4 separate regions of the Homo sapiens genome follow, and all the other regions are linked to region 1. The links come from fine-mapping of genetic effects on gene expression. A gene starts in region 1. Each other region holds a variant in brackets. All regions are shown on one strand. Distances are from middle to middle. Region 1 holds the start of SLC46A2 (solute carrier family 46 member 2). Region 2 overlaps SNX30 (sorting nexin family member 30). Region 3 overlaps SNX30 (sorting nexin family member 30). Region 4 has its middle 24 kb from the start of SLC46A2.

What was found.
Region 2: its variant is fine-mapped to the expression of SLC46A2 in whole blood (TOPMed, PIP above 0.99).
Region 3: its variant is fine-mapped to the expression of SLC46A2 in whole blood (TOPMed, PIP above 0.99).
Region 4: its variant is fine-mapped to the expression of SLC46A2 in tibial artery (GTEx, PIP 0.97).

The regions. Positions count from the first base shown.
Region 1 is chr9:112,888,247-112,893,398 of GRCh38, forward strand. SLC46A2 (solute carrier family 46 member 2) reads right to left here and starts at 2,630. Exons shown (of 4, transcript NM_033051.4): 1 at 1,307-2,630. The coding sequence starts at 2,435.
Region 2 is chr9:112,860,708-112,865,859 of GRCh38, forward strand. It overlaps SNX30 (sorting nexin family member 30), which reads left to right. Exons shown (of 9, transcript NM_001012994.2): 8 at 3,540-3,692. Among named protein-coding and RNA genes, the nearest start is that of SLC46A2, 28 kb to the right of the region's middle. The variant C/T (reference allele first, on the strand shown) is at 2,712.
Region 3 is chr9:112,824,635-112,829,786 of GRCh38, forward strand. The region is part of intron 3 of SNX30 (sorting nexin family member 30); the gene reads left to right. Among named protein-coding and RNA genes, the nearest start is that of SLC46A2, 64 kb to the right of the region's middle. The variant C/T (reference allele first, on the strand shown) is at 2,337.
Region 4 is chr9:112,912,706-112,917,857 of GRCh38, forward strand. No RefSeq gene overlaps it. Among named protein-coding and RNA genes, the nearest start is that of SLC46A2, 24 kb to the left of the region's middle. The variant C/T (reference allele first, on the strand shown) is at 2,001.

The sequences.
Region 1 (5,152 bases):
AGCCTGGGCAACAAGAGTGAAACTCCATCTCAAAAACAAAACAAAACAAAACAAAACCCAAAGAGAGACACAGAGAGAGGTGGTGGGCAAAAGGGGAAGGGGGTACTCTGTCCTATGCTGTTTAATTGAGAAGTGACCAGAGGTTACCTTGCCATTTTGTTAGGTGTTTCTAAGATGTGTGACCTGCCTGGGCCAAGAGCCAGCCTCAGATAACTGTCTGAAGTTGTTTTTTTGATATGATAGCCACTAGCCCCATATAACTATTTAAATTAAATACAATGACATAAAATTTAAAAATCTGTTCTTTAGTTGCGCTAGCTACATTTCAACGGCTCAATAGCCACATGGAGCCAGTGGCTTCTGTATTGGACAGAATGGATAGCAACTATTTCCATCATTCTAGAAAGTTCTATTGGAGCATTCATCTCGAGCTTTCTGCTTATAGTTGTCTGACTTGTGCCCTCAGATGGAAACTTAATGCTGCTTCCTTGGGGAATTTATTACATTGGTTGTGGAAGGCATTTACCGAGTATTTTAATGCATTTTTAAAAAGCCCTTGCTTGACTCCAAATGATTTTAATTAAGGGATCTTTTCAGTAGAATTACTTGAAATTCCACTCCTCCACGTTTTTTTTTTTTTGTTTGTTTGTTTTTTTTTTTTTGAGACAGAGTCTTGCTCTATCACCCAGGCTAGAGTGCAGTGGCACAATCTCGGCTCACTACAACCGCTGCCTCTTGGGTTCAAGTGATTCTTGTGCCTCAGCTTCCTGAGTAGCTAGGACTACAGGTGTGCACCACCACACCTGGCTAATTTTTATGCTTTTGGTAGAGATGAGGTTTTGCTATATTGGCCAGGCTGGTCTTGAACTCCTGGCCTCAAGTGATCCTCCCACCTCCCGCCCAAAGTGCTGGGATTACAGGCGAGAGCCTCTGCGCTCGGCCTTTGAAATTCCATCCCTTTAAAATGGCAAGGGGGTGTGGGGGAAGAAACCCAATTCCATCTCCTCTGTTGAAGGCCATCCTGAAGCCTCCCCTACTGACTCCAGGTACCACTGACCACACCTCCTTGACTGCCCAGAACCATGAACACCACTCTGGTAACATTTCATTCTCAATATAGATAATTAATTAACAATACATTACAGATAAACTCAGGGGCATATAATCTTGTGTCCCTTGTGCCTCCTAGGTAGCAGGTTCAATCCCTGGTGCTGAGCTAGGACACCCAGACCATGGCATCCCTGGTGTCAGCCCCATGATGCAGAGGGCTAGCAATGTCCTGCCTCCTCAAGAATGACAGACTCACCAATATAGAACATGTATGTCTCTTTCACAAAAGCCAAGAGGAGGGCTCCTGACCCAAAGGAGACCATCCCAATCATGATCATGGTGGTGTCCCGAAAGCAGCGGGAGAAGACCAGGACACCCAGGAAGCTGGTGATGAAGATGGTGTACCCTGCAGCCATACCATAGCCCACCTGCACTTGGTTCCAACCGAGAGGCTCCCTCAGCACAAAAAGAGGGATCACGTCCACTGTGCCCACCACCGCCAGGTCATATATGATAGCACCCACAAAGAGCAAGGCAATGGTGGTTTTATGGGGTTTTGCTTTTCCAGGAGATGGAGGGTGCCCCACTGCATACTGTTGGTCCAACTGATCAGGATCCAGAGTGCGGTATGTGCCAACCGTGCCAGACACGGTATCCACGGCGGGGAGCTCCTGGCTGGGTTTGGCCACCGACTCAGGGACCTTTAGCACCAAAAGGCTGTAGAGCAGGGCAAACGAGGCACAGCTCACGCTGCAGGCCGTCAGTATCAGGCCCTGCCCAGAGTGCCCAGCCATCTGCTTGAAGAGATGCCCGGAAGCCATGCTCCCGCAGAACCCCGCCAAGCCCAGCATCAGGTCAATGAGGATGAGGCGCACAGAGCGGCGGCCCTCGGAGGAGCCCAGCGATCCCAGCGCCATGACCCCGGACCAGAAGGCGGAGAAGCCGCCGAATAGCCCGTTCAGCGCCGCCGCCCCGTACAGCACCTCCACTGGCCAGTCCAGCAGCACCTTGAGCAGCAGCCCGAGGCGGGAGAGCAGGAAGCCCAGCAGCGACATGCAGATGGAGATCTTTCGGTGGTAGCGGTCGCTGAGCCATCCCAGCCCGTAGGCGGACAGCAGGGGGGACAGGCCCACCACAAGGTTGTAGATAATGTAGAAATTGGAGATGGCTCTCTGCTGTTGGTCCTCTAGAGCCCCCCGGGGCGATGGGCTGGCACTGTGGTTGGAGGAGCCTCCGGTTCCGTAGGACGCCTTCACCACGAGGAGTAGCCCCGCATCGTAGAGGGAGGCAGCCACCTGGGACGAGGCCACCACGGGCTCAACCCAGGTCCTCGGGTGGAAGCGAGGCAGGTGGCCCCTCCGCGGGCAGGTGACCTCGGGGCTCATGTGACCTCTCTGATGGGGATCGAAGGGCTTTCTGGCTGCAGTGACAAGGATATGCTCCCAAATTCGGCTGCTACGGCTGCTCAGGTTTCAGTCCCGGAGCGCGAGTGTGCTCCGTGCGCCGGGAGCGCGAGTGTGCTCCGTGCGCCGGGAGCGCGCCGGCCAGTGGCGAGCAGAGCCAGGGCACGCAGCGCCTGTGACAGCAGCCCGCCCAGCAGCCGAGTGACCTCCCGAGTGACTCCTCCTCAGGCCAGAAAAGGCCGCGCTCCACCCTGCCCTCGCCACCTCAGGCAGAGTAGGACTGGCGACAGTCCAGGGAAGCCAGGCGCGGGGGAGCGCACCGCGAGTGCTGGCTCCTGGCGCCAGCACCCCCGGGGCCGACGGGTCACGCTGCTCCTGTGAGCGCGGCCGCCTGACGGGGCCGAATTTCCCCACAGCCAGGCGTGCGTGCCCGGACCTCCCGCGGATCTCTGCGGACCCCCCACCACCGGGGCAGGGGCTGGAAGGAAGCTCCCCAGGACTGGCTCAGGGAGCGTTTCCAAATTCTCCCATCCCAGGAAGGCAGGTTTGCGCGAGGGGTGGGACGCCTAGGATTCTGCCTAGGATAAGTATTGGGGTGTGAAGTTTTATTTATAGATTTAATGCAACAGGGGCCCATGTGCTATAGGCAGCTGGGTAGCACTTTGAGAGAAGTAAAAACTTGGGAGCCGCCAGGTCCAGGCTCTTCTCCAAGCCAAAGGCCTCTTAGAGAAGAGTCCTGTTTGGTACACCTGCATTGGTGGGCCTAGTGCCTGGGCCTTGTCTAGAAGGCTCCTGCCCCAAACCCCAGGGCCAAGGGAGAGACGGCAAGATCCTGCCAGCCCTAGATGTCCCCCTAGATGATAAAACTGGACTCTTGGGCAGGGGCTTGAGCCCACTGGAAGGGGCAGAGTCACCAGGGTCCTCATCTGAATCAAGTGCCCAGGTCCCTTTCTGCTTGTTAGTAGTCACTCTTCTTCTGTCTGTGGGCTCACTCCCCTGGGCTGGGCTGAGACCTCCACTTCCCAGGTGGCCTCGCTTCTTGTTTAGGTACATACTTCTGCAAAGAAAACCAGGGTGATGGATGGTGCAGGGGCCAAAATGTACCACAGAGCATGACCTGTTCCATGGTCAGCCCCAGGGATGGAGACTCAAAGCACACAGCCTTCCTGTCCCTCTACCCACAATCCACTATAGCTCTGGCAGCGTGGATGATCAGGAACCCAAAGACATGAAAGGGAGACGCAGGTATGCAGGGAGAGCTTAAAATGCCACATGGATAATATACTCATGTAGGGAGTAGGGACTGGATTCCAAATGATTTAGTGTATCTATGTGCTCTTTTGGTAGTGTTTAGGTGGGCTATAATCTCCTCCCCTGCCACCCTCAACCTCCAGCATGGCCCAGCCTCCTCGTGTCTAGGCCCAGACGACTCTGCCTTCTGCAAAGAGAAAGACACACCTAGTCTTGCCCTTCAAGATGTGCCCCATGGATCTGGCCCAGCAGCCCATTTCCTTCTTCCTCCCCCTCACCTAGGGTCACCTTGGGAGATACATGTTTCACCCAACCCAAGCCTGGCTCTCCCACTCCATTCTTAATTTTTCCAGAGGCTACAGCAAACAGTCCAAACACCTTGATCCTATGAGGGGTGGAGACTCCAGTGAATGAGTAGGTTATGGGGCCAGGTGGTATTCCACAATCAAATATGGCCATGAGAACAACCTGACCCAGATGGACCACTCTGGCCACTTGATCAAGGAGTCTGTGCATTCTAGGGCTCTAGACTGTAGGGGGCAGCCCTTGTCATCTCTGGGAGGGTCTGTGGTATTTCAGTTCTTCCCATTGTCTTGGGAAACCAGGGACATTTGAAGGGTCTCTGAGAGAGTCACATCAGATCTAGAACAGATCTAGTAGGAGCTGGGTTATTAGGATGCTAGTCAGCCCTAGGAACCCCCAGGCTTCTGAGTTCTCTGGCCTGGAAATGAACAAGACTCAGGGTAGTCAGTGTCTCTCCCAGTTTAGGCTACTGTGGGTTGGATTATATTCTCATCATGTCCCCACTTCTTGCTCCATCTCTGAATGCAGGCCCCAGGTGAGCTAGCACCTGGTCATCCTCTGCAGCCCAGGCTACCAGCAAGTAGAGCCCTGACCTTGCCACTTCAAGATAGAATCTAGTCTCCAGTGCAAGGTTGGCTTCATTAAAGTGCAAGTACTAAATCTCTGATGTTTAGATTGATAAAATCACACTATTCCAGAAGAAAGGAACTAAGAAAAAAAACAGTAGCAACTAATATTTTTTGAGCCCTTATTATGTACTAAGCATTTTACGTGAATGAATTTAATCCTCCCGAGAAGTCTGTGAGCTGATCTATCACCCCATTTTTACAGACTGAGATACTGAAACCAGAGAGGTTAGGAAATTTGCACAAGATCACAAGGCCAGTAAATCAGGAAACTAGTATTTGGCATCAGACAGTCTTTGCAAGCCTACAGCTATGGGGAAAATACAGTTGCCAGAAATTTTTATTTGAGGATGTCCTCTTAACCCACATTGGAATGTGGAGAGGAGTAGAAACAACACAATCATGTTGTGATTATTGTTGATCAACAATGTATTGCATAAATAGGAACAAGAGAGTGGATAGATTATCTGTTGAACCTATATCCCAGGCACTTTACACTCAGGCAAGGAATACTTTTGT
Region 2 (5,152 bases), 28 kb before region 1:
AGCATTGGCAAAGGGTGGCATAATGTTTGGGAGAACATATAATAATATAGTTTGTATTTGGAAGATGAAAACCTGTTTTATAACACATGGAATAAAGCTTGAGGAGCTGTGCAAGGGATAGATTATCTTTTGTGAACAGCAAATTATAATATTGATACTGATATGAGCTAACAAATGTTTATTGAGCACTTACTATATGCCAGGCACAAGTGTGTCACAGGTGTGCAATGACTCTCTGGAACCAGTGTTGCAGGGGTAAGAAGAATTTACCAAGACAATTATAGGTAAAGAAAAACAGATTTATTAGAAAAAGTAGGAAAATACATTGCAAGAGTGCAACAGGCAGATCAGCAGGAAGGGAGCTGACTGCCCAGAAACAAAGGCTTGCTGGGGATTTCATAGAATGGTGCTCGTGCTGTGTACTGAAGAGGGCTTCATGCAGTGCTGATAACTCCAAGGTCGCAGTGAGCAAACTTGCATTTTTCTATTAACTGAGGGTCTGGTGATAGCTGGGTGCAGGAAGATTGTGTTATTAATATTTGTGCAGGAAGGCTATGTGTCCTGGACCATGAAGAAAAGCAGAAGTATAGCTTAATCTGCCTTCTCTTTTTGCTTTCCCTTGGTCCTGTCAGCCCAACTCCCCCTTCCTAATTAGGACGCTGTAAAGCACTTAACACATATTAGCCTGTCTGGCCTCATGACAGCCTAGTGAGGCGGAGGATATTATTAGCCAGACAGAGAAGCTGAGGCCAGGTCCCAGGCCACACACCTGGTAAGTGGCAGGTGGGGTGTGCAAGCTAAGCTCTGGAAGTTTGGTTCTAGAGCTGTCCACTGCAGCTGGAGGAAGTGTGGGGCTTTTTCTATTCTCCAAGAGTGGGCATGAGTTAACTGGGCCTCAGGAAAGCAGGACTTTGGGACGAGCCTCAGGTTCCTCATCCCCTGCCACCCTCTGCCAGTCTTGCGAGCTGCAGTTCCCTCTCCGTGCCGCTGTGGGCCCTGTGGCCTGTGCACAATTCCTGCGGTGGGTCCTGGTGTCTTCTCTCCTCTGTCCCTTGTGTGTACCGCCACTCTGGAGTGCCTTCCAAGTGGTCAAACATCTCACATCTGTCATCTTTAAAGAGCCGCCTCAGTGCTGTTTCCTCCATGAGGCCCGATCTTCCCAGGTTGGCCGCCCCCTCCATCCTCCTCAGCGTGCTTATCACGGGGGCTGCAGGGGAAGCGACAACACTTACGATATCTTGCCTCAGTGTCTAGGCATGTTCCTGTTTCTTCCCAACTAGACTGTAGGTTACGGGAGACAAGATTTGTCTGTTGAGACCCAAGCACTTTTGTATTCCTCAGTGCCAAGCACAGAATGTGTTGTGAAACTGAGAAGCCAAATATTTCCCAGACCGAGGCTCAGGCAGTCCTAAAACCCACAGCCGTGGTTTAGACCCTGATTTTTCTGGGTCAGTCAGAGTTCCCATCTCCAGAACACACCTGGGAATCTTTAAACCTGGGAATCTTTCCTCTGTGAACAGTCCTGATTCAGAGACCCTGGCTGCCCTCCTCTCCACGTGTCCTGGTGAGGTTCTCTTTCCAGGGCTTTCCATTTTCTCCTCACAGCAGAAGTTTCGTTAAGCAAACAGGAAGTTGCTCATAGGCACCCTCACCCCAATGCAAGTGTGAGCAGTGGCCAGGAGACGGGTAAGGGAACTGGCCTGTGCCTGTGGGGAGGTGAGGCCAGCCAGAGACACTGGCTCGCTGGGCATCTTTCCATTGAGGCTGATTCCTGGAGTGACTCTGGAGAGGCAAGACTGGGATACTCTGGTTTTTATTTCAGTTTTTCCTGAGGTAACCAATAGTAATGGGTGGTCTTGGGAGGAGGCAAAAGAGACTTAAATCATGGCATCAGAAGAAAAAGTCAGTCTCTGACCTGGTATGGTGGCTCAAACCTGTAATTCCAGTGCTTTGGGGGACCGAGGTGGGAGGATCACTGGAGGCCAGGAGTTCGAGACCAGCCTGGACAACATAGCGCCACCACATCCTACTTATTGTAGAGATGGGGGTCTTACTATGTTGCCCAGGCTGGTCTCAAATTCCTGACCTCCAGTGATCTTCTGCCTTGGCCTCCCAAAGTGCTGGGAGGCATGAACCACTGCACTCAGCCCAGTATTTTTTTTTTCCCTCTTCCAGAAGCTTATGTGCTTTGAAGAAGGCCTCTTTCCCCATCTTAACAGAAAAATTCCTTGCTTTTAAATTTCCAGAGTGTCTAGTTATCTCTCTCTCCAGCTCATCCTGGTTTCACCCATGTCTAGTTCCCGTGTCAGGCACATTCAAATTCACTTGCCTTGGCCATGTCTCTTCCCTGACTCCTGTGTTCTACAACCATCTCCACGTGGTCTGTGGAGAAGATGGCTGAGTACCCTGAAGGTGTCCAGCTCCCTCAGGCCTGTCTTTCTCATTGGCATCATTCTGGGTCAGCTCCTTGTCCACGAGGCTTGGGTATAAACCTCCTCGATTGGTGGAAGTGGACTCCCAGGGGTGAGCCATGGCTTGGAGACAGTTTGGTTCATGGGCCCCAGCACACCAAACATAAAAGGCCTCACTTGTGGTTGGGATACATTTGGCAGGTCGGGGGTTTGACCTGGCTTTGGGCCTGTCGGCTCCCTGGCCGCCATCAGGGCTCAGTGAAGTGCTTGAGTTAGGAGAGAGAAGCCAGCTTTGGGAAG[C/T]GCTGCAGCCACAAAGCCCAAACTCCAGCTGCACAGGATGGTGAAATTCACCAAAGCAAAGTGAAAGTTGTGAAACTTCAAGTGACATAGTTCCCTTTTGAGAAAGTCTTCTAAACCTCTTTAAGAAAAACTTGAAATAGCCTGCTGTATATTTCTTCTTTGAATTTCAAATTTTTTTGACATGCATAAGTAACTTTCCTCCTGTTTTCTCAGACTTCTCTAACTCTCCATTTAAAAGTATCTGCTATTGGGAAAAGCATAAACAAGCCTCCAGTTTATTTATGATGTGGGGTTCAGAGGAGGCAGCTGGCCAGTAGTTGTCTTATTGCAATTCTCTGATTAATGAGGAAAGGCATCATCAAATGTCACAGCAATGGAATAGTTCATGTGATCTGGGAGAACCTACCTCTTCTCTAGTTCCAATATGGGACACAGGAGAATAGCAGGGCAATACAAATGCTGTATATTTGCAAAGTCTGCACACACTTTCAAGTGTGGATGAGTAAATCCTAAAAGGAACCAAAGACATATGAGTCTGAATTGCAATGTTTCTTCTTCCTGTGTGTAAATGGGGGTGTTTCCCCCACGAGTCTCTGTTGTGTTTGGATGGGTTTGAAGATCTGGGTTAGGAGAGCCCCTTTTCAGAGCTCCTCCTTAGACCTGAAAACCCAAGGTTTTGCTTTCAAATAAATGCCTCCAGAGGAGGGAGCGTGTTGATAGCATTTTAATGTAGGGCTTTGGCCTTTGACAAATGTGTGCTCAGAGGAGCTCAAGGCAAGAGATGCCAGTTTTGTGTGCAGGGCACCCATGTGTGCCTCCCTTTTCCAGGTACCGGCGGACGTCGAGAAATGTCAGGATCGGATGGAGTGTTTCAATGCTGACCTGAAAGCTGACATGGAGAGGTGGCAGAACAACAAGAGGCAGGACTTCCGGCAGCTACTCATGGGGATGGCTGACAAGAACATCCAGTATTATGAGAAGGTAATGAGTGTGCCCAACAAGACTGGTTTCTAATGGCCAGAGCCTTTCACATGGGCCTACCAGAAATCCACAAGCTGGGAATCCTGCTAGTCTCATCTCCTTCCCTTATTTTAGCTGCTTAGTCTTGGCTCCCGCTTCATGCCCTTGCCCAACCATGTGGCTGCAGTGCTGGGTTTGGCAGCAGAGGGGGTGCTCACAGGGGTTTCCCTTGCACATGCTGCTGGGGAAGCAGCCCATTCGTCTTCCATGCTTTCTGGGCCTGGCACTGGTTGCTTCCCAGAGCCAGTCAGACCTTCAGCACAGTGATGCTGCCACCGAATGGAGGCTTTGGGGTTACTTTACTCTGTGTTGGGGTTCTGTACACAGGGTCCCTTCAGTTTGGTTGTGCAGTGAACCCCTTTGGTCATCTGGTGAAGCCTATAGACCCCTCACCAAAATACTGTGCATTTGTTTTTTAAATAGACTTCAAAATATTGATTTTAAATACGTAAAATAAAGGGATGTAGGATTACAAAGGAAAGCAATTCTATTAAAAACTTTTACTCATGGATCCCCTTGACCAGGTTAAGCAGCGCACGCACATGCGCGTGCACACACACACACACCCACACACCCCACTACCACCACCACACCCCACACACACACTACACACACACCACACCCCCCCACACTACACACACACCACACATACACCACACACCCCCCATACTACATGCACACCACACACCCCCTACACATACACCCCACATACACACCCCACACACAACCCCCCCACACACGACACCCACACACCACACCCACATACCTCACACAACCCTCACACACAACCCCCACACACACCATACACACACCACACACACATAGAGATGACTCTTATCAGGCTACAGCCCAGTCCCCTCAATCAAGGTTTGCTTGATTCGTATGTCCAGCAAACCAGTGCGAGGCCAGGTGCAGTGGCTCACGCCCGTAATCCCAGCACTTGAAGAGTCCGAGGTGGGAGGATCACTTGAGCCCAGCTCAAGACCAGCCTAGGCAATGTAGTGGGACTGTCGTTACAAAAGATACAAAATGAGCCAGGTGTGGTGGCGTGTGCCTATAGTTCCAGCTACTCGGGAGGCTGTGGCAGGAGGATGGCTTGAGCCAGGAGTTCAAGGCTACAGTGAGTCATGATTGTGCACTACTGTACTCCAACCTGGGTAACAGAGTTTTTTGATCCTGTCACGCCATATATATATATATATATATATATATATATATATATATGTATGTATGTATGCACACACACACACACGTATACACACATATATATACACACATATACATACATACATACACACATGAGTGAGTGTGTGTGTGTGTGTATGTATGTATGTATGTATATATATATATATATTGCGATAGGGTCAAAAACTCTGTTACCCAGGTTGGAGTGCAGTAGTGCAGTCTGTTACCCAGAGTTC
Region 3 (5,152 bases), 64 kb before region 1:
CTAGGGCTGCATTCCACCAGAAGGCTCTAGGGGAGAATTTGTTTGCCTACCTTTTCTAGCTCTTGGGGCTGTCTGCATTCCTTGGCTCATGGCCTCTTTATTTTCAAAGCCAGCAGCATATCTGTCATCATCTCTGCTTCCACCATCACATCTCCTTTTCTTAAAAAAGGAAGTAAAATCCATATTACACATCACCATTTTAACCATTCTGAAGTGTCCAATTCAGTGACTTTTAGTACATTCACGGTGTTGTACGACCATCACCACCATTGAGTGTTGTACGACCATCACCACTATTTAATCCAGAACATTTTCATTACCCCCAAAAGAAACTTTGTACCCATTAAGGAACCACTCTCAATTCCCTCCTTTTCCCAGCCCGGCTATAATGAAGAATGCTGCTATCAACACTGGTGGTTGTCTAAGATTTTGTTTGAGCACTTATTTTCAGTTACCTTGGCTATACAACAAGAAGTGGAATTGCTGGAGCATATAGTAATTCTGTGTTTAATTTTTTGAGGAATTGTTCAAACGGTTTTCCACAGTGGCTTATAATTTTATATCTGCACTAGAAATGTATGAGGGCCCAATTTCTCCACGTATTTGCCAACATTTGCTATTTTACTTTAAAAATTCTAGTGGGTGTGAAGAAGTAGATCCCAAATGACTTGTTTTTTTGAGACAGGATCTCACTCTGTCACCCAGGCTGGAGTGCATTGGCATGACCATAGCTTACTGCAGCCTCCAACTCCTGGGTTCAAGCAATCCTCCCACCTCAGCCTCCACAGTAGCTGGGACTTCAGGCGTGCACCACCATGGCCAGCTAATTTTTTATTTTTTGTAGAGATGGGGTCTTGCTATGTTGCCCAAGCTGGTCTGGAGCTCCTAGCCTCAAGCAATCCTCCCAGCTTGACCTCCCAAAATGCTAGGATTATAGACATGAGCCACTGTGTCTGCTTCCCCCAATCGATTTTTTAAGACATTTTGGCCTAAACGTTATATAGACATTCTACCTGTAAGTCCACTCCCCTTTTTGCTTTTTGTTCTCGGTGCTTACAAATTAATAAAAATACTTGGCATTTGTTAGACATCTGCTGTGTGCCTGGAACTGTGTTGAGCTCTTTTCATTTACATGATGTGGTTTACAGACTATAGATGGACTTGATTTCACCTGCAACCCAGATTCCTATGTGTAAACAACCCAGACAGTAATAGAGGTGAGGCTGAGAGTAGGTGTGTCCCGTAAGGAATCTTGAAATAGCAAGAAATTTCTGAAGCTACATACATTTGGAAATGATAACGCTTATGACAGGAGGAAATTCTGCTTGCAGAAGGATTCTCTCTAGGGTTCCTTTAAATATCAAGTTTCCCCGATTGATGAAACATAAGTTCAATTTGCTAAATCTGAAGAATGGACCCCTATTGTAGAATGTCATCTTTATGTTAAATGAGGCACTCCTAACCACTTACTTGCGCCTCAGGCCATCCTCTCAAGTCTTATTCAGCAGAAGCAAATGAGAGTATCGTAACAGGACTCATGAAGTAAGAACAGGAAAATATCCACTGGATTTGGTAATTAGAAAGTCATTGGCACTCAATTTTAAAAGGGCCGTTTCTGCACTGGGTGGGGATAGGGCAGAGAAACCCAGCACTGAAGGCAGTATCACAGCTGGTTTTGCTTTGAGGGTTGGCAGAAGGCTGGGGGTTGAGAAATCAATGGGATACAGTGAAGTCGAGATAAGTGACTCCTTTCAAAAAGATTGAATGAGCCAGGAAGGACAAGGGAGAAGATATAAGGTCAAGGGGTGGTTGGATTCGTATTTTTTAGGAAGAAAAACCAACCATATTTTTATAGATTCTGGGAATAGAGCTGGATGAACAGGAGATGTTGAAGATACAGGGAAGAGATTAATGACAGGTGCACCCCAATGAACAAATGGGTCAAGGACACAGATGGAATGCTTAGCTTTAGGGGAGGAGGGGTTGTTTTCCACAGGGGCTAAGGAATGGAGGTGAGGGTGATGCCCAGTCAATGGGCTTCTGTGGAGGAAGCAAAATAGGAAATTTCCATCTGATGCTCTTACACCTGGTTCTCACTTCAGAAAGATAGTAATCTGCTTAGCACGAAAAGCTGGGGTATGAGAATGGCTGCCTAAAGGAACGGGGGAGAGAAGAACTGACCAGAATAAAGGAATTATCCTAAAGGACAGCCATATCCCATTAAGATAACTTCTCAGTGCTTTGGACTGGGCCAGCATCGGGCTGAGTGGCCCGTCTGTCTGATCCAGCACTGCATTTCGAATATTCTACTCAAGTGTAAGCTCTGCTGGGTGTCA[C/T]ACGTGGACATGTTATCCTTGTGTGGGTCTGTAATTTTATTCCTGACTCTATTCCCCTCTCTTCTTTCATTTACAAACCTTTCCACTGTGCCCTTTTTGGAACTCCTGCTCTGTCATAAAGAATCCCCCAGTATTCTTAACATCTTCTCTGAATATTCCCACCATGTCAAGGTTTAAATGAACACTGGATGTCCCTGAAGATTAGTAGTCCCCTGAAGCTGCTGCCAGTCTTACAACAAAGACACCCAAACTTGTGTGTGTTTACCCTGTGGTAGGAATCATTCAAAGCACTTTCAGCATATTAGCTAATTTAATCCTCATGACAACCCTGTGAAGTTGATGCTATTAGTTTTTACCTAGCACCAACTTCTTGAGGTACCAAGAAATGTATAGAACTTGACGGTAGGCAAACAGCTAGTAGGTGGCAAAGTCAAAAGATAAACCCAGGAAGCATGGCATCAGAATCTTTACTCTTGATAACTAAAACATACTTTCTGAAGCTCTTTCAAGTTGAGGGCACTGAATTCCCTCATACTCCAAATACTTCTTTTCCAGGGGGTGGGGTGTTGGTGTTACCAATTCCTAAATCTTTTCAAGGTTTTGTGTTCTAAATCTAGGTTTACTAGGCCTACTCCAAGTGGCCTAGTATTCCACTTTTTTGGGTTGGCTAAGTCCACTAATCCTTGTTGCTATGTCTTATTTCTGGTTTGTTTTTGTCCTTCAGGGTTTATAATTTTAAAAAATCCTCTTTATTGCCATATTATGGGGGTTTGAGGAGGTTGTGGAGTTAAATGCTTGTGTTTAATGTCTTACTTTGAACTTGAACTGCTAGGTTGGTTTAACATTAGAAAATATATTAATTTACCACTTACCGTATTAAAGGAAAAAGCATGTGATTGTCCTGATAGACCTGCTTGGCCAACGTTGTCTTGGTTTATTCCCTAAAGAGGCTTGCATTTTCTAAAGAGGCTGCATCTGCACGAGTGTTCACAGCAGCATTGTTAGTAGGGCTATAAAGCTGAAAACCATTCACATGATCATGCACACGTTCACAGGCAGGAGAGTAGGTGGACAATTTGTCACACAGTCAGTTATATAGTGCGTGACTATGGAACAGTAAAATTATTTTCCTGTAGCTAAACATACATCAATATGGATAAGTCGCAGAAAGACAATGTTGAATGACAAAAGCGAACTATACAGGTGTGTACTGCATAGTGACATTTCTGTCAATGGTGGATGGCATATAGATGGTGGTCCCATAAGATTATAATACTGTATTTTTACTGTACCTTTTCTACATTTAAATATGTTTAGGTACCCAAGTACTTGCCATTGTGTTACAATTGTCTACAGTAGTCAGCACAGTAACATGCTAGGAGCAATAGCCTATACCGTATCGCCTCGGTGTGTAGTAGCCGCACCATCTAGGTTTGTGTAGGTGCACTCTGTGATGTTCACACAATGATGAAATTGCCTGACAATGCATTTCTCAGAGTGTATCTCTGTCATTAAGTGACACATTAACTGTAATTTTATTTTTTATAAAGTTAAACAAGCTCAACGAACAGTACATGGTTTTAAAACTGAAACTTAGAGGGGAGCAATGACCAAAAAGTTGAGGATTGTTAATTCCTTCATGGGGGCAGGAATAAGCGGAGATCTGATCAGGGATCCGTTGACAGGGAACTTTGTCAATGGCAGTGTTCTCTCTGTCAAGTTGAGTGGTAGATTAATAAGTGCTGGTACTATTATTATGCTTTATGACTTTGAGGTATGTAATACGCTCTTTTATTGTGCTAAAAAACATAGCACCATTTTATAATCTACAATTCAGTGGCATCAAATACATTCACAATGTTGTGCATCTGTCACCACCTTCTGAAAAGTTTCAGAATCACCCTGGAAGGAAACCCTGTACCCATGAAGCAGTCACATCTCATTTCCCCCGATCTCTCCAGCCCCTGGCAACCACCATCTACTGTCTGTCTCTGTGGGTTTGCCTATTCTGGACATTTCACATGAATGGAATCATATATATGGACTTTTGTATCTGGCTGTTTTCATTTACCATAATGTTTCCAGGGTTTTTCCATGATGTAGCATGTTTTAGTACTTAGTTTTTATGACAAACTATTAGTCCATTGCATGGATATGCCGCATTTTGTTTGCCCATTCACATGTTGATGGACATTTGGATTGCTTCTGCCTTTTGGTCATTGTAAACAAGGCTGTTATGACTATTTGTGTACAAAATTTTGTTTGGGCACCTGCTTTCAATTTTTTTTTTAAAGTTTTAAAAAATGTTTGTTTGTTTGAGATGAAGTCTCACTCTGTAACCCAGGCTGGAGTGCAGTGGTGCAATCTCCACTCACTGCAACCTCCCCATCTTGCCAGCCTAAGCTATCCTCCCACCTCAGCCTCCTGAATAGTTGGGACTATAGGTGCAAGCCACCATGCCCAGCTAATTGTTTTTATATTTAATATTTTTGGTAGAGACGTGGTTTCACCATGTTGCCCAGGCTGGTCTCGAACTCCTGAGTTGAGGCAATCCACCTGCCTTGGCCTCCCAAAGTGCTGGGATTACAGGCATGAGCCACCACGCCCAGCCTTGCTTTCAGTTCTTTTGGGCATAAATCTGTGAGTGGAATTGGTGAGTTTTATGGTAATTCTAAATTTAACTTATTGAGGAACCACCAAACTGTTTTCCACAGTGGCTGCACATTTTACATTCCCACCAGCAATGTATAAATGTTCTGATTTCTCCACATCCTCACCAACACTTGTTTTTTTTTGTTTGTTTTGTTTTTGTTTTT
Region 4 (5,152 bases), 24 kb after region 1:
AGAGTTTTTATTGGGGCTTCATCCTGTGGACATGCTGTGAATAGCCTGTATGGCTGACCTTTAGTCTCCAGCCCCTATGGATGTTAAGCTGATACTGTGCGGCCCAAAATGCTTGTTATAAATCACATGGTTAGACAGTCTAGTGTCTCTCAAGGAGCCTAGGTAAACAAAGACACTCTTATCAGGCAGGACATTCTTTGGGCCTAGAGATCACCTCCCAGTAACTGAGGCAAAGGCCAGACTTCCCTTTGGGTAAGGCTAATTCTTTAATACACAGAAAAATTCCAGGCTCTGGGGATATAGCAGCAAGCAAAACAGATACAAATTCCCACTCTCTTGAAGTCCACTATCATATTCAGAAAGTACCCTTAAGCTGCCCATTCCAAGCCCCCACTGGCTTACTAGCCTGAAGTGTATTATTTTCCCAGGAACAGCTCCTTAAATAGACCTAGACATTTCCAGGGACCTTGCAAATATAATCCAAATGTTACTCCTATTGGGATCACTTATTCTCTTGGATCCTGGGATAAAACAATAGAAGAGAGATGTTTTGCTTTTAAAAGGATCCTTCAGATTGGGTTCCTGCAGCTGAGCTTTTGGGCCCCTAGAAACGGAATTCCTTCTTTTGCACTTTAGTTCTCTTCTTTTCATAGCGATCAAGCCCTGGCCATCATACCCTGTGCTTGGGATGGCTGCTCGTTGCGTACTGTAGGCTGTGTGCTTCCAACTGGCCTGGACTGGCAGTCTTCTTTATCTGTGGTTGCTCTATCATTCCAGTTTAGAATCTATCATTCCACATTCCTCAGGGATCCAGTCAACCTGGCAGATCTGAACATATGTTCTTGGCTATCGGAGACCCAGGGAACTGGCATCTGATTTGTAGCTGAGAAAGCCAAAGTGGCCATGAAACACAGGAGAGTCTGCAATTGGAAAATAAGCACACTCTCCCACAAAGGCAGAGCAAGGCCCATGAATTCTCAGAAATGATAGCAGGAATGTTGGTCTGGATTAACAAGAATTCTGCCTAGGAAGATGGCCTGCCAGGGGAGATTCTGGGATGTCCTATAGGAAGATGCTGGGTGGGGTGAATGGTATGGGTAGAAAGAAGGCAGTCAAGGAGCGGAGCTCTGCCTACAGCGTGGGAGTGGTCGTCAGAGGAACTTTTCAGGGGGACCTACTTGAGAAAGGGTCAGCTTTAGATACCTGCCAAGTCCAGAGAGCACAAAGCGGTTTTATGATAGCATCAGGCAAGAGTGAACTTTTTTCCTCCTCCCTTTTCCTTCTCCCTCCTTGGGCTCCAATCCCAGGGAGGCCACAAGCAGCTGTTAGGCATCTGAGAGAGGAGCAATGGGAAAAAGAGAAAAAGACAGTTCCCAGAAGCCTGCAGTTTCCCTGCAGTGACTTTACCTGAGAAGAAAGGGCTGGTAAAGGTGGCTCATGCCTATAATCCCAGCACTTTGGGAGGCTGAGGCAGGCGGATCACAAGATCAGGAGTTTGAGACCAGCCTGGCCAACATAGTGAAACCCGGTCTCTACTAAAAATATAAAAATTAGCCAGGCGTGGTGGCCTGCGCCTGTAGTCCCAGATACTCAGGAGGCTGAGGCAAGAGAATTGCTTGAACCCAGGAGGCGGAGGTTGCAGCAGTGAGCTGAGACTGTGGCACTGCACTCCAGCCTGGGTGACAGAGTAAGACTCTGTCAAACAAACAAAACAAAACAAAACAAAAAAGAAGAAGAAGAAGAAAGGAGAAAATTTATCTTTACAATGAACATCCAAATGTTGATTAAATATATCATAGTGGACAGCATCATTTCAGAATCAAGACTATGTTTGTGACTTAAAGTAAGCCCTGGCATATAAATGTGTGTTTTACTAAATAATCCACTATTGATGTGGACTCTATGTACAGACAAAAAAGAGGGGGAGAGACTCATTTCTCCTTCTCTTCCTCCTTGAATAGTGTTTTGATCTTATCTTCCTTGGCCTGAAGCCAGCTCTG[C/T]CACTTGGACCAGCAGGCTCAGCATGACCAGCCAGGAGCAACCCACAAGCATTGTCTATTTCCAGCTTGGATAATGTCCCATAAGAATCCACTTTATTTTGGGAGAGTATGTGCTTAAAGTGGAAAGTACGTGTTTATTATCATTTGCACTCTCCTCATGCAAGGCCGTATCAAAATCTCTCAGTGTTTTGACTGGTCTACATGTTGTCTACACAGTTAAAATGGTATATAATTTAGCTTTTCACAATCTATTATTATACATCATGAATTCTGTTAAATATAAGGCCTCATTTCCCAGTGAAAAATTTGGAAATAATAATTTCTCCATTCACACTTAAACAGACTAATTAGTATAAAAGTCTTTTAGATTAAAAACTAATGATCTGAGAATCAACGGAATCATTGCTCGAGTTCAGCATTTCTATGCAAGAGTTCCTTATCTTTCTCATTTGCTCAGGCCTAATCCAAACCTTTAAGGATCTCTGGCATTTGTTAAGTAAAGGCCAGCTGTTGAATCGAATTAATGCATAACACTATGATATAATAAAGCATCTTCTTAGAGCAACTATTATATACCCGGCACTACCCTGAACTGTTTCTGCCAGTTCAAGTCCATTTGATACACAGTGGGAAAAGATGGCTATTGAAGTTATCCTTTCCCCTTTGATATAATCACTAAATGATTGATCTTTTTCTCACAAATAGTGGCAATTTGGGGAAATCTCAGAACAGGCAGGCCTTCCAAATCAACGATGCTAGATAACGTTTTGCTTTATAAATACGAAGTTGTCCCAGGTTGACTGTGGGAAGAGCAACACTGGTTCATTGCATAAAACATTACACAATGTTTGTTGATCTAACTTGACTTGCAAGCTATCCTGTGAGTTTTATGATAATTTATGCCAATTGGTGGTATGATGCTTGAGTTATGGTACCTTATGATGTTGCTTATAAGTGAAATGAAGTATACTCCAATGTAGAAACACCTACAATCTGATTAAATTGTAGGGTGCATCTAATAAATGGTTTCTACAGACATACTTAAAGTGGACAGAAAAGCAAAATATGTGTCTAAACAGAAATGTTAAAGGGGAATATTCTGATTACTGAGTTTTCAGCAACCCTTCTGCCCACAATCTTTCCTGAAGTTTGGGTAAATTCATGGCTGGGTCTTCAGCCATAGAAAGTCTGTCCTCATCCTTTCTTTTTTCTTTCTTGAATTTCATTTCATTGTGGTAAGAGGACTTGGTAAGAGATCTACCCTCTTAAAATTTTAAATGTATAATACCTTCTTATTGACTAAAGCTGCCATGACTGTAGATATGGCAGAGGACCGACAAGCTATAGAGATCTGCCCTCATCCATTCTCTCTGGACTCTTGTGTCAGGTTGCAGTAGGTCCCCCACATTAAAATTTCCCACTAAACCCAAATGTAATGCATCTAACTAGTTTCCCCCAAGCCAGATGGCAAAAAACCCTTCTAGCCTTGTCTTAAAATCCTTAGCATTATATAAGTTCTAATTCTGTGACTTTAACAGCTTCTTGGAATCAGTCATGTACACATAGCTCTGGTTCCTGGCTGGGGTATTCACTACCTTAAACTTTCTTAAAAAAAAACACCCGATGACCTTCTAGTGTTGTTTTGGGGATTAGTGGGCAGATGTAGAGGACAGTGATGTCTACACTTGCTACATTCTACCTCTTGGCTGTCTACTATATCCACAGTCACTTCTTTCCATATAATTTTTAAAATATCCCTGCCTGATAATATAACCAGTATAAAAGTGAAAATATGCTCATTCTCCTTCCAAGAGAGGGAAAACATGAAACTATATTAATTCATTGTATCGAGATTCTTGTTTAGGCTCTCTATCTAATATCTGTTTCGTTCTAATTCTAGAGATGATCCTCTATTATTTAAAAAAACCCATGGCTGATTGATAAGCCTGGCCAATAATACCCTGCATTCAATGGTCAAGAAAGGAAGAAAAAAGAAGACAAATTAAGTATATGATACATAATAAGAAAGGTAGCAGCTGTAATCCTCACTTAAGTATAAGATCCTGAGGTACTACTGATATTTGAGGGGTTTCTTTGCCATGAATTTTATGTTCCTCTTTCCTTTGGCAAACATTTCAGCTAGTCAGGATTCTTTGCTAGATGTTGTATCAGTCAGCTGTTGCCAGAGAAATACTATATATAAAACAATTTCAAGATTTAGGTGACTTACAGTAACAAGTATTTTTTTCTCACTCACAGGTCTGTGGGTTAGCTGTGGGTCAACTGATCTACCCTGGGCTTAGCTGGGCTTGACCTTAAACTGTGGGTTAGATCAAAATCCACTCCCCATATATCTCATCCTCTTTCAACAAGTGACTACCCAAGGCATATTCTTATTAATTCAAAATGCAGGGATACAAGAGGACAAATTCAACTACACAAGTGTATTTCAAACCTTTGCTCACATCATGTTTGATAACATCCATTAGGAAGTCACGTGGTCAAGTCCAAAGTCAAGAGATTGAAAAGTATCCTTCACACATCATGAGTAGATACAGAAAATTCTACTTCAGGAGAGTGAAGAATTGAGACCAATAATTTAGTTTATCATAGGAGTGATTGAATACTTATTTCTGAGGACTTTGACCCCTTGCTGGTCTTGTTTGTAGAAGATTGCATGCTCTTCCATTAACTTTACCACTGGGAGTCTCCTGAACTCTACACATAGGCCCTCTGGCCCCTATCATGTGGCAGAGACTCTTTTTATGCATGATAATAAGGATAAGTCACCCAGCTAACCATATGACCCTCTTAAATTGCCTGTCCACCTAATGGTATGAGATTTCTCAAATGGCCAGATGACAATCTCCACTTCAGTAGAATTGATAGAGGCATTCTAACCTTGAATACTAACACCATTAAGCAACCAGATCCCCAAATCCAGATATAAGAGGTAAGCAATTTATGAGTGAGTTATTTAGATATGATCACAAGAGATGTTACTCCTACCTCTACCCCTTGATTTCTAGACTTATAAATCCTGCATACAGGAGAAACTACATATACTGTATCTTGGAAAACCTTATCCTTGCAGGGTTTTATGTCCAAGGAGGAGTCATAGGTGAGTCCACAATGAGTCATTCTACCTTTAG